2 separate regions of the Homo sapiens genome follow, and region 2 is linked to region 1. The links come from fine-mapping of genetic effects on gene expression. A gene starts in region 1. The other region holds a variant in brackets. All regions are shown on one strand. Distances are from middle to middle. Region 1 holds the start of ZNF114 (zinc finger protein 114). Region 2 overlaps ZNF114 (zinc finger protein 114).

What was found. PIP is the estimated chance that this variant, and not a neighbour inherited with it, causes the effect. A credible set is the group of variants that fine-mapping cannot tell apart.
Region 2: its variant is the best candidate, but not a certain one, in a credible set for the expression of ZNF114 in hippocampus (GTEx, PIP 0.55).

Annotation. Positions count from the first base shown.
Region 1 is chr19:48,264,997-48,273,719 of GRCh38, reverse strand. ZNF114 (zinc finger protein 114) reads right to left here and starts at 3,639. Exons shown (of 6, transcript NM_153608.4): 1 at 3,501-3,639; 2 at 2,271-2,475; 3 at 1,892-1,993. It overlaps ZNF114-AS1 (ZNF114 antisense RNA 1), which reads left to right and starts at 1,888. Exons shown (of 3, transcript XR_936008.4): 1 at 1,888-2,104; 2 at 3,487-3,575. RefSeq lists enhancers at 1,386-1,891, 1,892-2,398, 6,578-6,627.
Region 2 is chr19:48,287,297-48,296,138 of GRCh38, reverse strand. ZNF114 (zinc finger protein 114) reads right to left here. Exons shown (of 6, transcript NM_153608.4): 6 at 8,531-8,842. Among named protein-coding and RNA genes, the nearest start is that of ZNF114-AS1, 20 kb to the right of the region's middle. RefSeq lists enhancers at 1-335, 336-837, 4,117-4,765, 4,883-4,932, 4,953-5,002. The variant C/G (reference allele first, on the strand shown) is at 5,108.

The sequences.
Region 1 (8,723 bases):
TGACACAGAAGCAAGCCTGTGCAACTCAGGGGCTGAGCTGTAAATAAGAGTTTTTGAGACACAACATTCCACGTCTATCTTGACCTTATAGTTCCCAAGGAAACAGCCACACCTGATGATAACCCCATTACACGCATCTCAGCTGTAAGCCTACCTAAGAAGATAAAACCGCCTATTTCAATTTAAGTTTCCCTGAATTCCGTCCTTTCCCCAATACAATTGGAGCGCCGGTTCTGACCCTAGTAACCTCAGACACATCAGCTCAGGACAGTAGTTTAAAAAAAAAAAAAACAGAAAAGAAAAGAAAAAGAAAAACAACGCATCATTGTGAGTCAGCTCAGGTGAGCAGGCTGAGGTTGGCTTTTGCCTGATTGTCCATGACGAAGATATACCTGGCTGATGAAACACATTCCCACCTTTGCCCTGAGTTCCAGTAAATCAGACCTCACCGGAGCGGATTAGTGATAAAAATGCATCTTGTTCCGACCGTGGGGTTTGATCCTGACACCTTCACACCACTCTCCTTGCAGCTTGTCCTTTTTATATATTTCCTCTGCTGAGGTCTCAGTTCCCATAAAAGACCATGTTCAGCACACGGAACTCAAACCCTCAAAGCTCTTTATCTGGCCAGGCGCTGTGGCTCACGCCTGTAATCCCAGCCCTTTGGGAGGCCGAGGCGGGCAGATCACGAGGTCAGGAGCTCGAGACCATCCTGGCTAACGCGGTGAAACCCCGTCTCTACTAAAAATACAAAAAATTAGCCGGGCGCGGTGGCGGGCGCCTGTAGTCCCAGCTACTTGAGAGGCTGAGGCAGGAGAATGGCGTGAACCCGGGAGGCGGAGCTTGCAGTGAGCAGAGATCGCGCCACAGCGCTCCAGCCTGGGTGACAGAGCGAGACTCCCTCTCAAAAAAAAAAAAAAAAAAAAAGCTCTTTCTCGTAAGAAACCAGTGCATCCTGCACGTCTGGCCCTGCCCAGGACTTTTCAGTTCACCCTCATCACAACAGGCTCCAATCCAATACTTTTTTTTTTTTTTTTTTTTTTTTTGAGAGAGAGTCTTGCTCTGTCGCCCAGGCTAGAGTGCAGTGGCACGATCTCGGCTCACTGCAACCTTCACCTCCCAGGTAGAAGCGATTCTCCTGCCTCAGCCTCCCAAGTAGCTAGGATTACAGGCGCTCGGCTCACTGCAATCTCCACCTCCCAGGTTCAAGCGATTCTCCTGCCTCAGCCTCCCGTGTAGCTAGGATCACAGGCGCCCGCCACCATGCCCGGCTAATTATTATTATTATTATTATTTATTTTTTTTTTTGAGACAGAGTCTCCCTCTGTCGCCCAGGCTGGAGTGCAATGGCTCGATTTCGGCTCACTGCAACCTCCACCTCCCGGGTTCAAGCGATTCTACTGCCTCAGCCTCCTGAGTAGCTGGGATTACAGGCGCATGCCACCACGGCCAGCTAATTTTGGTATTTTTAGTGGAGATGGGGGTTTCACCATGTTGGCCAGGCTGGTCTCGAACTCCTGACCTCAGGTGATCCGCCCACCTCGGCCTTCGAAAATGCTGGGATTACAGGCGTGAGCCACCGCGCCCGGCCAGCTCCAATACTTTCATGGATGCAAAGAACACAACCCCTGCAACCGCTGCATGCGGGCATCTCTGCTGCCCAAGCCCGGGGACAGGCGCTTTCGCAACGCTGCAGCACGGTATGGGGGAAGCGCCCTTCTCCCTGGGCCAAGGTGAAGGGCGCGCTCGGGGTCTGAACACGTGGGTCATTCGTGCCTTCCCCTTTCCTCCCGGAAGGGTAGAGACAATGAGGCTTTTGCAGACAGCAACTCTCAAGTCCCTGGGCCCCGGCCCGGTCCCGCCCTTAGTACGGACACTCAGGCACACTTACTCTTCCACTAGCTCCGGCTTCCAGATGTCTCTGTCGGTGGCGCAGCCCAAAAGCGCGCGCAGCCCAGGAGCGTCTCGGAGCTGCACCAGGATGGGGATCAAACTGTTGAAATAAATCAACCTAACGAGGCCGCCAGGAAGGACCGACTACAGAGATTCGTCCTGCCCAGACATTTTGTACTCGCTTCTTGACCCCTTCCTCAAAATGGACGGTGTAAGGGACCAGGGGGAGGAGAGGGGAGCCGAGCAGGCAGGGGATCCCAGCGCCCGCACTCCTGCCTGCCCACCCCCGTCCCACCCCCCGCCCCCGGGACCCGATCGACCCGACCCCAGAGTCTGACCCCCACGACCAGTAGATTGACATTTCCTGTAGAACTTACTCCCCAGGCACTCCTGATCCAAGCAGGAAACCCCAGCCTTGGGTCCTCGCTGTCGCCTCCGCCCGCGCCACCGTTCCTAGGCTCTCCAGCTGGGAAGCGCGCTCTCTGCGCAGCCAACGCGCCTCCTTGCGGGCTCCGGAGACTCCGGCCGCTTGCTGGCTTCCTGCATTTCCCAAGGAAAGAAGGCTTTTTTTTCCCCTCAGTACTGTAAAAGGGCGGAAACAGACAGGTTGGGGAGTCTCCAGTTTCTCTCTTGTCCCCATTTTTATGTTTTTGCTACCACTCCCCCCCATCCGTTGACTAGCGGCTAAACCGCAAGGCTCCCGTCGCCTACCCTTGAAATGATTTTTTTCTTCCTTCCTTCCTTTCTTTTCTTTCTTTCTTTTTTTTTTTTGAGACGGAGTCTCGCTCTGTCGCCCAGGCTGGAGTGCAGTGGCGCGATCTCGGTTCACTGCAACCTCCGCCTCCCGGGTTCATGCCATTCTCTCGCCTCAGCCTCCGAGTAGCTGGGACTACAGGCGCCCGCCACCACCCTGGCTAAGTTTTTGTATTTTTAGTAAAGACAGGGTTTCAGCGATCTCCTGACCTCGTGATCCGCCCGCCTCGGCCTCCCAAAGTGCTGAGATTACAGGCGTGAGCCACCGCGCCCGGCCCTTCTTTTCTTTTCTTTCTTTCTTTCTTTCTTTCTCTTTTTTCTCTTTTCTTTCTTTCCCTTTTTTCTCTTTCTTTCTTCTCTTTCTTTCTTTTCCTCTCCCTCCCTCCTTCCTTCCTTTTTTCTCTTTCTTTCTTCTTTTTCTTTCTCTCTCTCCCTTCCTCCTTTTCTCCCTCCCTCCCTTCCTCCCTCCCTTCTTTCTTCTCTTTCTTTCTTTCTTCTTTCTTTTTTCTTTCTCTTTCTTCCCTCCCTCCCTTCTTTCCTTTCTCTCTCTCCCTCCCTTTCTCTTTCTTTCTTTCTTTCCTTCCTTCCCCCCTTCCTCTCTCCCTCTCTGCCCCTCCCTCCCTCCCTTCCTTCCTTTTTTATTTTTTTCCTTTTCTTATTCTTTTTTTCTTTTTTTTTTTCTGAGACAAGTTCTTGCTCTGTCCTTCAGGCTGGAGTGCAGTGGCGCAATCTTGGCTCACTGCAGCCTCAAGCGATCCTACCACTTCAGTCTCCCAAGTAGCTGGGACCACAGGCACGTACAAGGCATGCCTGGCTAATTTTAATTTTTTTTTTTTTTAGAGATGAAAACTCACTATGCTGCCCAGACTCGTCTCGAACTCCTGGGTGTCACGCGTGTCCGTATAGAAGACCACCTAAACAGGCTTTGTGTAAGCAACAAAGGCTGTTTATTCACTTGGGTGCAAGTGGGCTGAGTTGGAAAAGAGAGTCAGCGAAGGGAGATAGGAGAGGGGCAGCTTTATAGGGCTGGGGTAGGCAGTGGAAAGTTACAGTTAAAGGTGGTTATTTGTTGTCAGCAGGGGAGGGGCTCACAAGGTGCATTGTGGAGAGATCATGGGACTCATTGTCCAGGAGAAGAATGTCACAGGGTCGACTGATCAGTTGGGGCAGGGCAGGAACAAGTCATAATGGTGGAATGTCATAAGGTGGGTTAATCAGTTAAGGCAGGAACTGGCTGTTTCACTTCTTTTGTGGTTTTTCGGCTGCTCCAGACTTCTTGGCTCCTGCAGGCCATCTGGACGTATATGTGTAGGTCACAGGGGTTACAATGGCTGAGCTTCGGCTCAGAGGCCTGACACTGGGCTTAAAGTGATCCTCTGGCCTTGGGAGGCTGAGGTGGGCAGATCACCTGAGGCGAGGAGTTCAAGGCCAACATGGCGAAACCCTGTCTCTACTAAAAATACAAAAACGAGCTGGGCATGGTGGTGCATACCTGTAATCCCAGCTGCTCGGGAGGCTGAGGCAGGAGAATCGTTTGAACCTGGGAGGAGGAGGTTGCAGTGAGCTGAGATAGCGCCATTGCACTCCAGCCTGGGTGACAGAGCAAGACTCCGTTTCAAAACAAACAAAACAAAACAAAACCCAAAATGACTGCCTAAACCCAGACCTCTAGGACACAGACTCAGTTTCCCACCCTGACTCTGCTTAACTGGGGAGTCGCTTGATCTTCAGGTGCCCCTGATGCAAATCAGCTGAACAAAGCGTTTATCCTCTACTCGAGTTACATCGTTTCTTTTCCTTTGAGGGTCCCCAGCAAACCTTGATGTGCATCTCTTTTTCTTTTGGTTCTTTGGGAGGAAAGATTAAGCCCAGCCCAGCCAGCTCCTGGAGCTCCCCAGGAAGGAAGGGCTGGGAGTCCCTATCTGGTCAATTAAATAATTTATTTATTTATTTATTTTGAGACGGAGTTTCGCTCTTGTTGCCCAGGCTGGAGTGCGATGGCGCAATCTCAGCTCACCACAACCTCTGCCTCCCGGGTTCAAGCAATTCTCCCACCTCAGCCTCCCGAGTAGCTGGGATTACAGGCACACGTCACCATGCCTGGCTAAGTTTTGTGTCTTTAGTAGAGACGGGGTTTCTCCATGTTGGTCAGGCTGGCCTCGAACTCGCAACCTCAGGTGATCCACCTGCCTCGGCCTCCCGAAGTGCTGGGATTACAGGCATGAGCCACTGCACCCCGGCCTAAATAATTTATTTTTTATGGACTGTCTTTCTTCACTCTAGTAATGAAATTCTACCATAAAGCTTAAATTGCCAAATATTGATCATACTTACCCCAGTTACATTTTTTTACGGTGATAAAATATACATCACAAACATTTCCATGTGAACCATTTTTTTTTTTTTTTTTGTGACGGACTCTCCCTCTGTCACCCAGGCTGAGGTGCAGTGGCACGATCTTGGCTCACTGCAAGCTCTGCCTCCCGGGTTCACGCCATTCTCCTGCCTCAGCCTCCTGAGTAGCTGGGACTACAGGCATCTGCCACGCCCAGCTATTTTTTTTGTATTTTTAGTAGAGATGGGGTTTCACCATGTTAGCCAGGATGGTCTCGATCTCCTGACCTCGTGATCCACCCACCTCGGCCTCCCAAAGTGCTGGGATTACAGACATGAGCCACCGTGCCCGGCCTCCATGTGAACCATTTTAAAGTGTACACTTCAGTGGCATTAAGTACAGCCACATCGCTGTGTAACCATCATCACGATTCATCTCCAGAACTTTGTCATCTTTCCCAATTAAAACTCCGTACCCGTTAAATAATCACACCCCATTCCCTTTTTCTCTCAGTCCCTGGTAAGCTCTGTTCTACTTTCTGTGTCCAGGAATTTGACTGTTCTAGGAATCTCCTAGAAGTGGAATCACTCGGCCTTTGCCTTTTTGTGTCTGACGTATTTAATTTTGCACAATGTTTTCCAAGTTCACCTACGGTGAAGCATGTATCAGTATTTCATTCCTTTTAAAGTCTGAAAAGTATTCCACGGTATGTAGTGTTCAAAAGTAAAATGTATGGCTGGGCATGGTGGCTCACACCTGTAATCCCAGCACTTTGGGAAGCTGAGGCGGGCGGATCACCTGCGGTCAGGAGTTCAACACCAGCCTGGCCAACATGGTGAAACCCCGTCTCTACTAAAAATACAAAAATGAGCCAGGCATGGTAGTGCATGCCTGTAGTCCCAGGTACTCGGGAGGCTGAGGCGGGAGAATTGTTTGAACCTGACGGGGAGAGGTTGCAGTGAGCCGAGATCGTGCCACTGCACTCCAGCCTGGGCAACAGAGTGAGACTCTGTCTCAAAAAAAAAAAAAAAAAAAAAAAAGTACAATGTGACATAAGAAAATTTCTGACCTCGGGCTGGGGGCGTTGGCTCACACCTGTAATCTCAGCACTTTGGGAGGCTGAGGTGGGCGGATCACCTGAGGTCAGGAGTTCAAGACCAGCCTGACCAAAATGGAGATACCCCGTCTCTACTAAAAATACAAAATTAGCCGGGCGTGGTGGCGCATGCCTGTAATTCCAGCTACTCGGGAGGCTGAGGCAGGAGAATCGCTTGAACCTGGGAGGCGGAGGTTGCGGTGAGCCGAGTGTGCCATTGCACTCCAGCCTGGGCAACAAGAGCGGAACTCCATAAAAAAAAAAAAGAAAATTTCTGACCTCTTCCCCAAATAAACTACCTGCACGTAAGCCCTCATTTCAGGCTCTCCTTTTTGGAGGCTCCCAAATTATGACCGAAGGAGTCCAAGGACTTGAGAAGAACCCTGTTAAACCTTGGTTCAGGTCTGGGCTCAGGGCACTAAAGGATATTCCTCTTGCGACCTCTAGTGGTTGTAGGTGTCCAATTCCCTTCTATTTTCTCTGGGTCTTCATCTCCAGCAGTGCTTCCCTTCCCTTGTTTTCTCATCCTCTCCCTTCAAAAACCTGCTTCTTGGCCAGGGGCGGTGGCTCACGCCTGTAATCCCAGCACTTTGGGAGCCTGAGGCGGGCGGATCACGAGATCAGGAGTTCGAGACCAGCTTGGCCAACATGGTGAAACCCAGTCTCTACTAAAAATACAAAAATTAGCTGGGTGTGGTGGACGCCTGTAATCCCAGCTACTTGGGAGGCTGAGGCAGGAGAATCGCTGGAAGCCAGGAGGCGGAGGTTGCAGTGAGCCAAGATTGCGCCACTGCACTCCAGCCTGGGTGACAGAGCGAGACTCTGTCTCAAAAAAAAAAAAAAAAAAAAAACCCACAAAAAACCACAAAAAAACCTGCTTCTTTTCTGGTATCCTCAATATCCCGTTTCACCTATGCCTTCACTGCTAGGTGGATCTTTTTAAAGAAAATTGGGAACATTATATTATTTCACCTGTAAAAATATCACTACGATGGCCAGGTACAGTGGTTCATGCTTTGAGAGGCCGAAGTGGGTGGATTGCCTGAGCTCAGGAGTTCGAGACCACCCTGGGCAAAATGGCAAAACCCTGTCTCTAAAAAAAAAAAAAAAAAAATTAGTCAGGCGTGTGGTGCACGTAGTCCCAGCTACTTCAGCTACTTGGGAGGCTGAGGCGGGAGGATCACTTGAGCTCAGGAGGTGGAGGTTGTAGTGAGCTGAGATCTTGCCACTGCACTCCACTCTGGGTGACAGAGTGAGACTCTGTATCAATAAATAAAAAATAAAAAATAAAAATATCACTATGTATGTTTAAAAGATGAAGAGTTAAAAAATGCTTTACTGTCTTACATGAATACTCCCTTACAATGAAAAGTAATCATCATTCAGGACATCATAAAATATCCCGTTAATGTTGTCATTTCCCTGGTTCTTATTTTTACTTTATTGCTTTGCATAGAGATACAAATCATCCACTATAATAGGTTTTTGTGTGTGTGTGTTAATTCTTTGTTAATCTAAGTTGCCACTTATTTAATTCCATCCCCCCATTCAAACATTGCTATTGTTGTAGAAAGTAGGTCATTTTTTCTGTAAAATTTTCTTTGGTTTCAGTTTTGCCAATTAGATCCTTGTGTTGTCATTTAACATGTTTTTCTTTCTTTCTTTCTTTCTTTTTTGAGACGGAGTTTCGCTCCTGTTGCCTAGGTTGGAGTGCAATGGCGTGATCTCGGCAAACTGCAACCTCCGCCTCCTGGGTTCACACCATTCTCCTGCCTCAGCCTCCCGAGTAGCTGGGATTACAGGTGCCCACCACCAGGCCCTGCTAATTTTTTTTGTATTTTCAGTAGAGACGTGGTTTCACCATACTGGCCAGGGTGATCTCGAACTCCTGACCTCAGGTGATCTGCCCGCCTCAGCGTCCCAAAGTGCTGGGATTACCAGCGTGAGCCACTGTGCCCGGCCTTGGTTGCCTGTTTTTATGGTTATTTCTTCATGATATGGTAACCAAGGGGTGGATTATTCATGCCTTCCCTTTTTGGTCCACATAGGGTAACTTCCTGACGTTGCCATGGCATCTGTAAACTGTGATGGAGCTGGTGGGAGTGTAGCAATGAGGACCACCAGAGGTCACTCTCGTCGCCATCCTGGTTTTGGTGGGTTTTGGCCGGCTCCTTTACTGCAACCTGTTTTATCAGCAAGGTCTTTATGACCTGTATCTTGTGCCGACCTCCTATCTCATCCTGTGACTTAGAATGCCTTCATCATTTGGGAATGCAGCCCGGTAGGTCTCAGCCTCATTTTCTCCACCTCCTACTCAAGATGGAGTTGCTCTGGTTCAAATGCCTCTGACAAAATGTCTACGGAGGCCGGGCGCGGTGGCTCATGCCTGTAACCCCAGCACTTTTGGAGGTTGAGGCGAGTGGGTCATGAGGACAGGAGTTCAAGACCAGCCTGGCCAACATGGTGAAACCCCCATCTCTACTAAAAATACAAAAATTAGCTGAGCGTGGCGGTGGGCACCTGTAATCCCAGCTACTCAGGAGACTGAGGCAAGAGAATCATTAGAACCTGAGAGGCAGAGGTTGCAGTGAGCTGAGATCATGCCATTGCATTCCAGCCTGGGCAACAAGAGCGAAACTCCATCTC
Region 2 (8,842 bases), 22 kb before region 1:
GGGTTTCACCATGTTGGCCAGGCTGGTCTTGAACTCCTGACCTCAGGTGATCTGCCCACCTCAGCCTCCCAAAATGCTGGGATTACAGGCGTGAGCCACCGCACCCAGCCTATTCATCCATTTCTCTGAGATCCACGTGTCTGGCTCTCTTGGAGCTATGTTGGTCAGGGCAGGCTGGGCTGTGCTGCAGTCACAGCTGCAGATTCTCTGTGGTCCTCAGGCAGCAGAGTTTTCTCTCCTTTGTGGGCCAGCTGAGCGCTCCGCTCCATATCACTCGTGTACCCCGGGCCCATGGCACAGCCATCACTGGAGTGCTGCCAGTCCTTTGGCACGGGAAGAAGAGAGGATGGCACAGCAGGCAGTGACTCTCGAGGCTTGGACCTGATATGACACCTGTCCTCTTAGCTCACACTCAGCCAGAGCGGGTCAGCAGGTTACGCCGAACTTCAAAGGGTCGCCGGGAAGCGCAGTCTTTTCATGTGCCTGGAAGGAGAGAAAGGAAGGATTATTTATGGACAGCCCTAACTCCAGCCACAGGGTCACAGAGAAAAAGCTGACTTTGGCCCTTTCCTGCAGCGGGGGTGGGTGTAGGAGTGAGAGGGCTTAGAACACCTTGATAACTCTTTCCTGTAGTTGAGTCATGCCAAATGCCCTGTCAAAATTTAATCCATTGGTATCAAAGCTATATAAAAACTTCTAAAAATTCAGGCTGGGCGTGGTGGCTCACGCCTGTAATCCCAGCACTTTGGGAGGCCGAGGTGGGTGGATCACTTGAGCCCAGGAGTTCAAGACCAGCCTGGTGAACATGCGAAACCCTGTCTCGACTAAAAATACAAAAATTAGCAGAGCATGGTGATGTGCACCTGTCTTCCCAACTACTCGGGAGGCTGAGGCACAAGAATTGCTTGAATCTGGGAAGCGGAGGTTGCAGTGAGCCGAGATCATGGTACTGCACTCCAGCCTGGTTAATAGAGTGAGAGTGTCTCAAAAAAAAAAAAAAGTTCAAATCCAAACAGATAATCTATCATCCACCTTCCTAATCCAGGTAGCACCCTGAGCCTCCCCTTAAAATGGCTTGATCATAGTGCATACTTTTTTGTGTGAGAATAAGATGAATTTATACACAAAGCCTTAGAACAGTGGCTGGGCGTGGTGGCTCACGCCTGTAATCCCAGCACTTTGGGAGGCCAAGGTTGGCGGATCACCTGAGGTCAGGAGTTCAAGATCAGCCTGGCCAACATGGTGAAACCCCGTCTCTACTAAAAATACAAAAATTAGTCGGGTGTGGTGGCACATGCCTATAATCTCACCTATTCCGGAGGCTGAGGCAGGAGAATCTCTTGAACCTGGGAGGCGGAGGTTGCAGGGAGCCGAGACCATGACACTGCACTCCAGCCTGGGAGACAAGAGTGAAGCTGTATCTCAGAAAATAAATAAATTAATAAATAAAATGGCTTGATAATAGTACATACTTGTTTGTGTGAGAATAAAATGAACTGATACACAGAAAGCCTCAGAACAGTACCTGGCAAGTAGTAAATGCTCAGAACTACATGTGACTATTAGCAGGACAGCGATAAAGATGGAAAGGAGTGTAGTGTTTTCTTTCTATTTATTTATTTATTTATTTATTTTTGAGACGGAGTCTCGCTCTGTCGCCCAGGCTGGAGTGCAGTGGCACAATCTCAGCTCACTGCAATCTCCGCCTCCTGGGTTCAAGCAGTTCTCCTGCCTCAGCCTCCCAAGTAGCTGGGATTACAGGCACCTGCCACCATGCCTGGCTAATTTTTTTTTTTTGTATTTGAGATGGGGGTTTCACCGTGTTGGCCAGGCTGGTCTCGAACCCCTGACCTCAAGTGTGCTCCTACCTCGACCTCCCAAAGTGCTGGGAATACAGGCGTGAGCCACTGAGTCTGGCCTGTGTTCAGCAATATTTGAGCCATTTTTCCTTACAGAAAGAGAAATACTTATTTTTGTGTTTTAAATAAAACTGGTGTAGGAAAGTTAAAAAAAAAAAAAAAGAACTCTATTTCTCCCCTTACAGCTGCACAGGAGGGGACATCCACATATCTTTTCTCATTAATTTGATAAATATTTATTGAGCATGTACTATGTGCCATATATTGTACTAGGTTCTGGGGATGGAAGAGTAAAGGAGAAATTTGAAAATGGCATTTCAGGAGGGAGGTGGAAAGGCAGCTCCTCTGAGGCGTGGCTCCTGGCAGTGGAACTGCTATTCTTCCTCCCTGGGGGCCCAGGAAGTCTCATCTTGGTGTGGAGCTGAGTCGTGACCACCAGCCCTATCTCCCATTTCGGAGCGATTTCCTCCTCTTTCCTTCCAAAGATAGCAGAGTAAGCACAGCAGACCGAGCCTTCTGATTTGCTGCCCCTGCAAAGCGGCCTCATAGACCACCACAGTGCGATGGACTCAGGCTAACCACAGCTCTCTGTCACCTCAAGGGTCCTAGTCCTACAATGAGCAGGTTCACTTCCTCTACCTTCCCCTGGACTGGGGCTGGGCTCGCCACTTTTAGATGGTCAACCCTGCAGCACCCAGCGCAGAATACATCGAAGGCCACTTTAGAGACACCTGAGAATTCAACCTAGATTTTTGATTTTTTATTTTTTTGAGACAGGGTCTTGCTCTGTTGCCCAGGCTGGAGTGCAGTGGTGCAATCTTGGCTCACTCCAGCCTCCACCTCCCAGGTTCAAGTGATTCTCATGCCTCAGCCTCCTGAGCAGCTGGGACTACAGATGTGTGCCACCACGCCCGGCTAATTTTTGTATTTTTTGTAGAGATGGAGGTTTCACCATGTTGGCCAGGCTGGTCTCGAACTCCTGGCCTCCAGTGATCCTCCCGCCTTGGCCTCCCAAAGTGAAAAAGACATTTTAAAGTTTGACCTCTGGAATGCCTTATGCTACAGCCTAAGAGAACAGCAGGTGAGTGCAGCTCAATCTTATCAGCCAAAGTGGAGGAAGGATGAATTAAATTGTACTCAATAGCAGTGAAATTACGGGTATTTAATCATTTTCCTCCTCCAGGAGTGAGGCAGAAACAGGCACTGCCACATCCAGGCTGTGTGGTCTTGGGCCAGTGTCTTCAGCATCCTGAGCTGTTACTCATCCTGACATCAGAGCTGGCAGCGAATCCTGGAGGCAGCTTTGTGTGGTGGGGAAGGCTCACTGGGAGGTAGCGTGGGTGTAACCGGTTCCTCATCATAATCTCTGTCAAGTGAAAAAACATGGGGATAATCTAGAACAGTGGAAAACCCTATCCCAGACCCTTAGAGAGTCAGGAAACCATTTTAAGGTGACCTGACCAGCATTTAAAAATAGGAATAGGCCGGGCCTGGTGGCTCATGCCTGTAATCACAGCACCTTGGGGGGCTGAGGCAGGCGGATCACCTGAGGACAGGAGTTCGAGACCAGCCTGGCCAACATGGTGAAACCCCGTCTTTACTAAAAATGCAAAAATTAGCTGGGCATGATGGCGGGAGCCTGTAATCCCAGCTACTCAGGAGGCTGAGGGAGGCTGAGGCAGGAGGATTGCTTGAACCTGGGGGACAGAGGTTGCAGTGAGCCGAGATCATGCCTGGGTGATAGAGTGACACTCTGTCTCAAAAAAAAAAAAGGAATAGAGTGGAATATAAAGCATCGTGTAATACAGGGCCGTGTAATACAGGGTGGTATTTTTAAAACTAAAATTTTCTTTTTTTTGAGACGGAGTCTCGCCCTGTCACCCAGGCTGGAGTGCAGTGGCGCGATCTCGGCTCACTGTAACCTCTGCCTCCCGGGTTAAAGTAGTTCTTTGCCTCAGCCTCCCTAGTAGCTGGGATTACAGGTGCCCGCCACCATACCTAGCAAATTTTTTTTTTTTTTTTTTTTTAAGTAGAGATGGGGTTTCACCATCTTGGCCAGACTGGTCTGGGACTCCTGACCTGGTGATCCACCCACCTCGGCCTCCCAAAGTGCTGGGATTACAGGCATGAGCCACTGCAGCCGGCCTAAATTTTGTTTTTAATTGTACATATTTATAGGATGCGGCGTGATGTTTTGATACATATATAAATTGTGCAGTGATCAAATCAAGGTTATTAGCAAATCCATCATCCCAGATGCTTGCCATTTCTTTGCGGTGAAACATGCAAAATGTTCTAGCTATTTTGAAGTATACAATCCATTGTTGTTGGCTATAGAGGGTGGTATTCTTTTGTAAAAGTATGCTGATGCGGCCAGGCACGGTGGCTCATGCCTGCAATCCCAGCACTTTGGGAGGCCGAGGCGGGCAGATCACTTGAGGCCAGGAATTCGAGACCAGCCTGGCTAACATTGTAAAACCCCATCTCTACTAAAAATAAAAAATTAGCCAGGCGCGGTGACGGGCGCCTGTAATCTCAGCTACTCAGGAGGCTGAGGCAGGAGAATCGCTTGAACCCTGGAAGTGGAGTTTGCAGTGAGCCGAGATCGTGCCACTGCATTCCAACCTGGGCAACAGAGCAAGACCTTGTCTCAAAAAAAAAAAAAAAAAAATGCTGACGCAAAATGATTTCTTACTGTGCGTCAGAATTTTGGAAGCCACTGGTAGACAGTCCTTAGTTTCACACAATGATTTTCAGACAACTGCCCATTCGCCAATTCCAACCACCTCGGCCCACTGCCCAAATCCAACGTTTCTGGTCTCCGGGCGGCGCTGCCTTAGCAGGATCCGCCGCCAGGTGGCGCGCTCCCCCCGCCCGGAGTGGGTTTTGTTCCATCCCGGACTTAGATCTTCCAAGACGGCGATTTCCTTCTGGTCGGGTCTCTTCCCGAGGATCCGCTTTACTCGTACTAGAAACTCTGACCTCGAATGCAGTTCCAGAAGCAGAACCCTGTAGGGGGTTTCAGGCGGCCAAGAAGGGAAGTGGTTCTCCTAAGACCGTCCCGGCTTCAGTCCACGGCGCTCACTAAATGCCTCCCACGCCAGACGAGGTCCCCCGTCCCCGGAGCTCGCGTCCCAGAGGTGAGGACACACACGAACCCTCCTGCCCGAATTCGCGACCCCGTCAGTGCAGGGAGGCTCTGGCCTGGGGCTGAAGAGCCGAGTCTCTGGTGCCTGACAGCACGGGGT[C/G]GAGCCCCTCCCGGCCACCTGCTGGCTGTGTGATCTTGGGCATCGTGCTTGGCCTCGCTGTGCCTCAGTTCCCCCCACTGTAAAATGGTAGTGATAACAGCAGCCACTTCATAGCGTTGCAGGCGTTGCATGAGTTAATAGGTGCAAAGCGCTCAGAAGGGGGCCTGGCGTATGTTTGCCAAAACGATTGTTGAAAATTCTCAGTTTACATCTGTGAGAATTGAGGACCAGTTGGGGGTAGAGGGTGGGGAATCCCCAAAGTCGGCTAAGTTCAGCCTCAGCGACTGGAGGCGGGAGGGGTGTTCCCTCAGCTACAGATGTTTCCCCCCTCCCGCCCCGGCCCCCTCCACCCCCGGTTGAATCCAGGGATTCTGATTTCAGCCATGGTCCTTTTCCTCCGCACAGCGCTCCCTGGGGGTGGGAGTGGACCCAGGCCCCTTGGCAAGGTCTGGGACTGTCCTGGCATAGCAGCCTCCCCTCCTCCTCTTCATTCCTTCCAGGATGGGGAGGGCCATGAGTCACCCAGATTCTAGGATAAAGCAGCAGATTGCTGGGAAACGCAGGCAGCAGGGGTCCGGGAGAAAGGGCCAAGCTTGAGCCCCCTCAGCCACAGTGGGGGTCCCTGACCTGCAGGTCTTCCCCAAACACTGAAAGCTGAACTTAACAGTGCTGGGGCCATGCAGAATGCGCGCCTAGGAGGACCTCTGCTCTTACCAGTGGCGTTTCTCTTTTCTTTTCCTTTTTTTTTGGAGACGAAATCTCGCTCCGTCGCCCAGACGGGAGTGCAGTGGCGCAGTCTCAGCTCACTGCAACCGCTGCCTCCCTTGTTCAAGTGATTCTCCTGCCTCAGCCTCCCAAGTAGCTGGGATTACAGATGTCTGCACCATGCCTGGCTAAGTTTTGTATTTTTAGTAGAGATGGGGTTTCGCCATGTTGGCCAGGCTGGTCCCGAACTCCTGACCTCAAGTGATCCACCCACCCCGGCCTCCCAAAGTGCTGGGATTACAGGCATGAGCCACCGCGCCCGGCCTATTTTTTTTTTTTTTGAGACAGAGTCTCACTCTGTCTGTTGCCCAGGCTGGAGTGCAGTGGCACGATCTCGGCTCACTGCAACCTCCGCCTCTTGGGCTCAAATAATTCTCCTGCCTCAGCCTCCTGAGTAGCTGGGACTACAGGTGCATGCCACCATGCCTGACTAATTTTTGTATTTTTAGTAGAGACGGGGTTTCACCACATTGGCCAGGCTGGTCTTGAACCCTGACCTCAAGTGATCCACCTGCCTCGGCCTCCCAAAGTGCTGGGATTACAGGCGTGAGCCACCACGCCCGGCCAAGAATGACTTTCATAAAATGCTCATTGGGAGGGCTTTGCAAAATTGGTGTTAGCAGCATGTTTATAATCTCTAAAGTGAGATACAGATCCAGGGTCTCTGGAATGAATATAACTAAGAAAGAATGAATGCCACCTGCACCCTACCTGCTTAGCTTTTCTTTTCCTGAAAGAAGCAAGGCACAAAGAAATATTCTATGCCATGCCATCATACGCAGCATAAACATCATCGAAACTAGAAAACAGGGTATTTGGGGATTTCTGCATAGCTGCAAACATAAAGATGAGCGAGGGGGGCGAATGATACAAAATGAACCATGGCGGTTTCCTCTTGGGGCTGGAGATGTCGTCTGTGAGGCACAGACGTGAATTGCCTGGTGTTTAATGATGAGCTGTTTACGGGCTTGGATGGTGGGTATAAGGGTGATCACTTTATTAACTTTGAAATGTCGTGGTGGCAGGTGCCTGTAATCTCAGCTACTCAGGAGGCTGAGGCAGGAGAATCACTTGAACCTGGGAGGCAGAGGTTGCAGTAAGCGGAGATCACGCCACTGCACTCCAGCTTGGGCAACAAGAACAAAACTCCATCTCGAAAAAAAAAATGTATATGTACATTTTCATGCATTTTCAGGTAGTCATATTTCCCAACTTTTATTTTTTATTATTTTTATTTTTACTTTTTTTGAGATAAGTTTCACTCTTGTTGCCCAGGCTGGAGTGCAATGGCACAATCTCGGCTCACCGCAACCTCCGCCTCCCAGATGCAAGCAATTCTCCTGCCTCAGCCTCCTGAGTAGTTGGGATTACAGGCGTGAGCCACCACACCTGGCTAATTTTATATTTTTAGTAGAGATGGGGTTTCTCCATGTTGGTCAGGCTGGTCTCGAACTCCTCACCTCAGGCGATCCGCCCACCTTGGCCTCCCAAAGTGCTGGGGTGACAGGCATGAGCCAACATGCCCGGCCGTTTCCCAACTTTTAAAAGATTGAAAAGAGGCCGGGCACAGTGGCTTATGCCTGTAATCCCAGCACTTTGGGAGGCCAAGGCAGGCAGGTCACTTGAGGTCAGGAGTTTGAGACCAGCCTGGCCAGCGTGGTGAAATCTCGTCTCTACTAAAAATAGAAAAATTAGCTGGGCGTGGTGGTGGGTGTCTGTAATCCCAGCTACTCGGGAGGGTGAGGCAGGAGAATCACTTGAGCCCAGGAGGCAGAGGTTGCAGTAAGTCGAGATTGCCCCACTGCTCTCCAGCCTGGGTGACAGAGCAAGACTCTGTCTCAAAATAAATACATACATAAATAAAATAAAAATAAAAATAAGACATTAAATAGTGCTCATTGTGGAAAGTGAATCTATGTGCCCTTAGTAAAGAAGATGAGAAGAATGGAGGTGGCAGGGAAGTTGACAGAATAGGGCACATTAGACTGACAAAGTCATAACAAGTAACCCAAGTTGGTACCAGAAAGACCACATACTCTGACCATAATGCAGTTGAACAGTGACCAATAAGACAAAAATGGTATCATGGAGTATATGAATCCCAAGTCTAAATTGAATGAGGCTCAAAGAAGGCTTCACATTGAAAATGAGACCACGTGTATGTGAGTTATAATGAACCTGCTATATACCAACATTTATGTGGCAGAGCTGGGAGTGTGCAAAGAGGGATATCCTTCATCTTGTAGCATTTTTTTTTTTAGAAAGGAAAAACTGGAAAATCATGAACATTTACAGTGTTTCAGTCCTACTGTGCGCTCATTGTGCCTAAGTGAAAGGCTGGACCTGAAAGCTTTCTTTTTTTTTTTGAGACAGGGTGTCACTTTGTCACCCAGGGTGGAGTGCAGTGGTGCAAACACAGCTCACTGCTGCCTCAAGCTCCCAGGCTCAAGCGATCCTCCTGCCTCAGCTCCCCAGGTAGCTGGGACTACAGGCATGTGCTACCACTCCTGGTTAATTTTTGCATTTTTTTTTTTTTTTTTGTAGAGATGGGGTTTCTCCATGTTGCCCAGGCTGGTCTCAAACTCCTGGACTCAAGCAATCCCCCACCTTGGACTCCCAAAGTGCTAGGATTACAGGTGTGAGTCACTGCACCAGGCCTTGAAAGCTTTCTTATTTTTATTCCAGTTGTAGCCTCCCTTCAGGATGTGGATTCACATGCAACATGAGTGGTAAGTGTTTAAAGAGGTCTTTCCTACTTTTTTTTTTTTTTGAGACGGAGTCTCGCTCTTTCCCCCAGGCTGGAGTGCAGTGGCTCCATCTCGGCTCACTGCAAGCTCCACCTCCCAGGTTTACACCATTCTCCTACCTCAGCCTCCCAAGTAGCTGGGACTACAGGCACCTGCCACCACGCCTGGCTAATTTTTTTTGTATTTTTAGTAGAGACGGGGTATCACCGTGTTAGCCAGGATG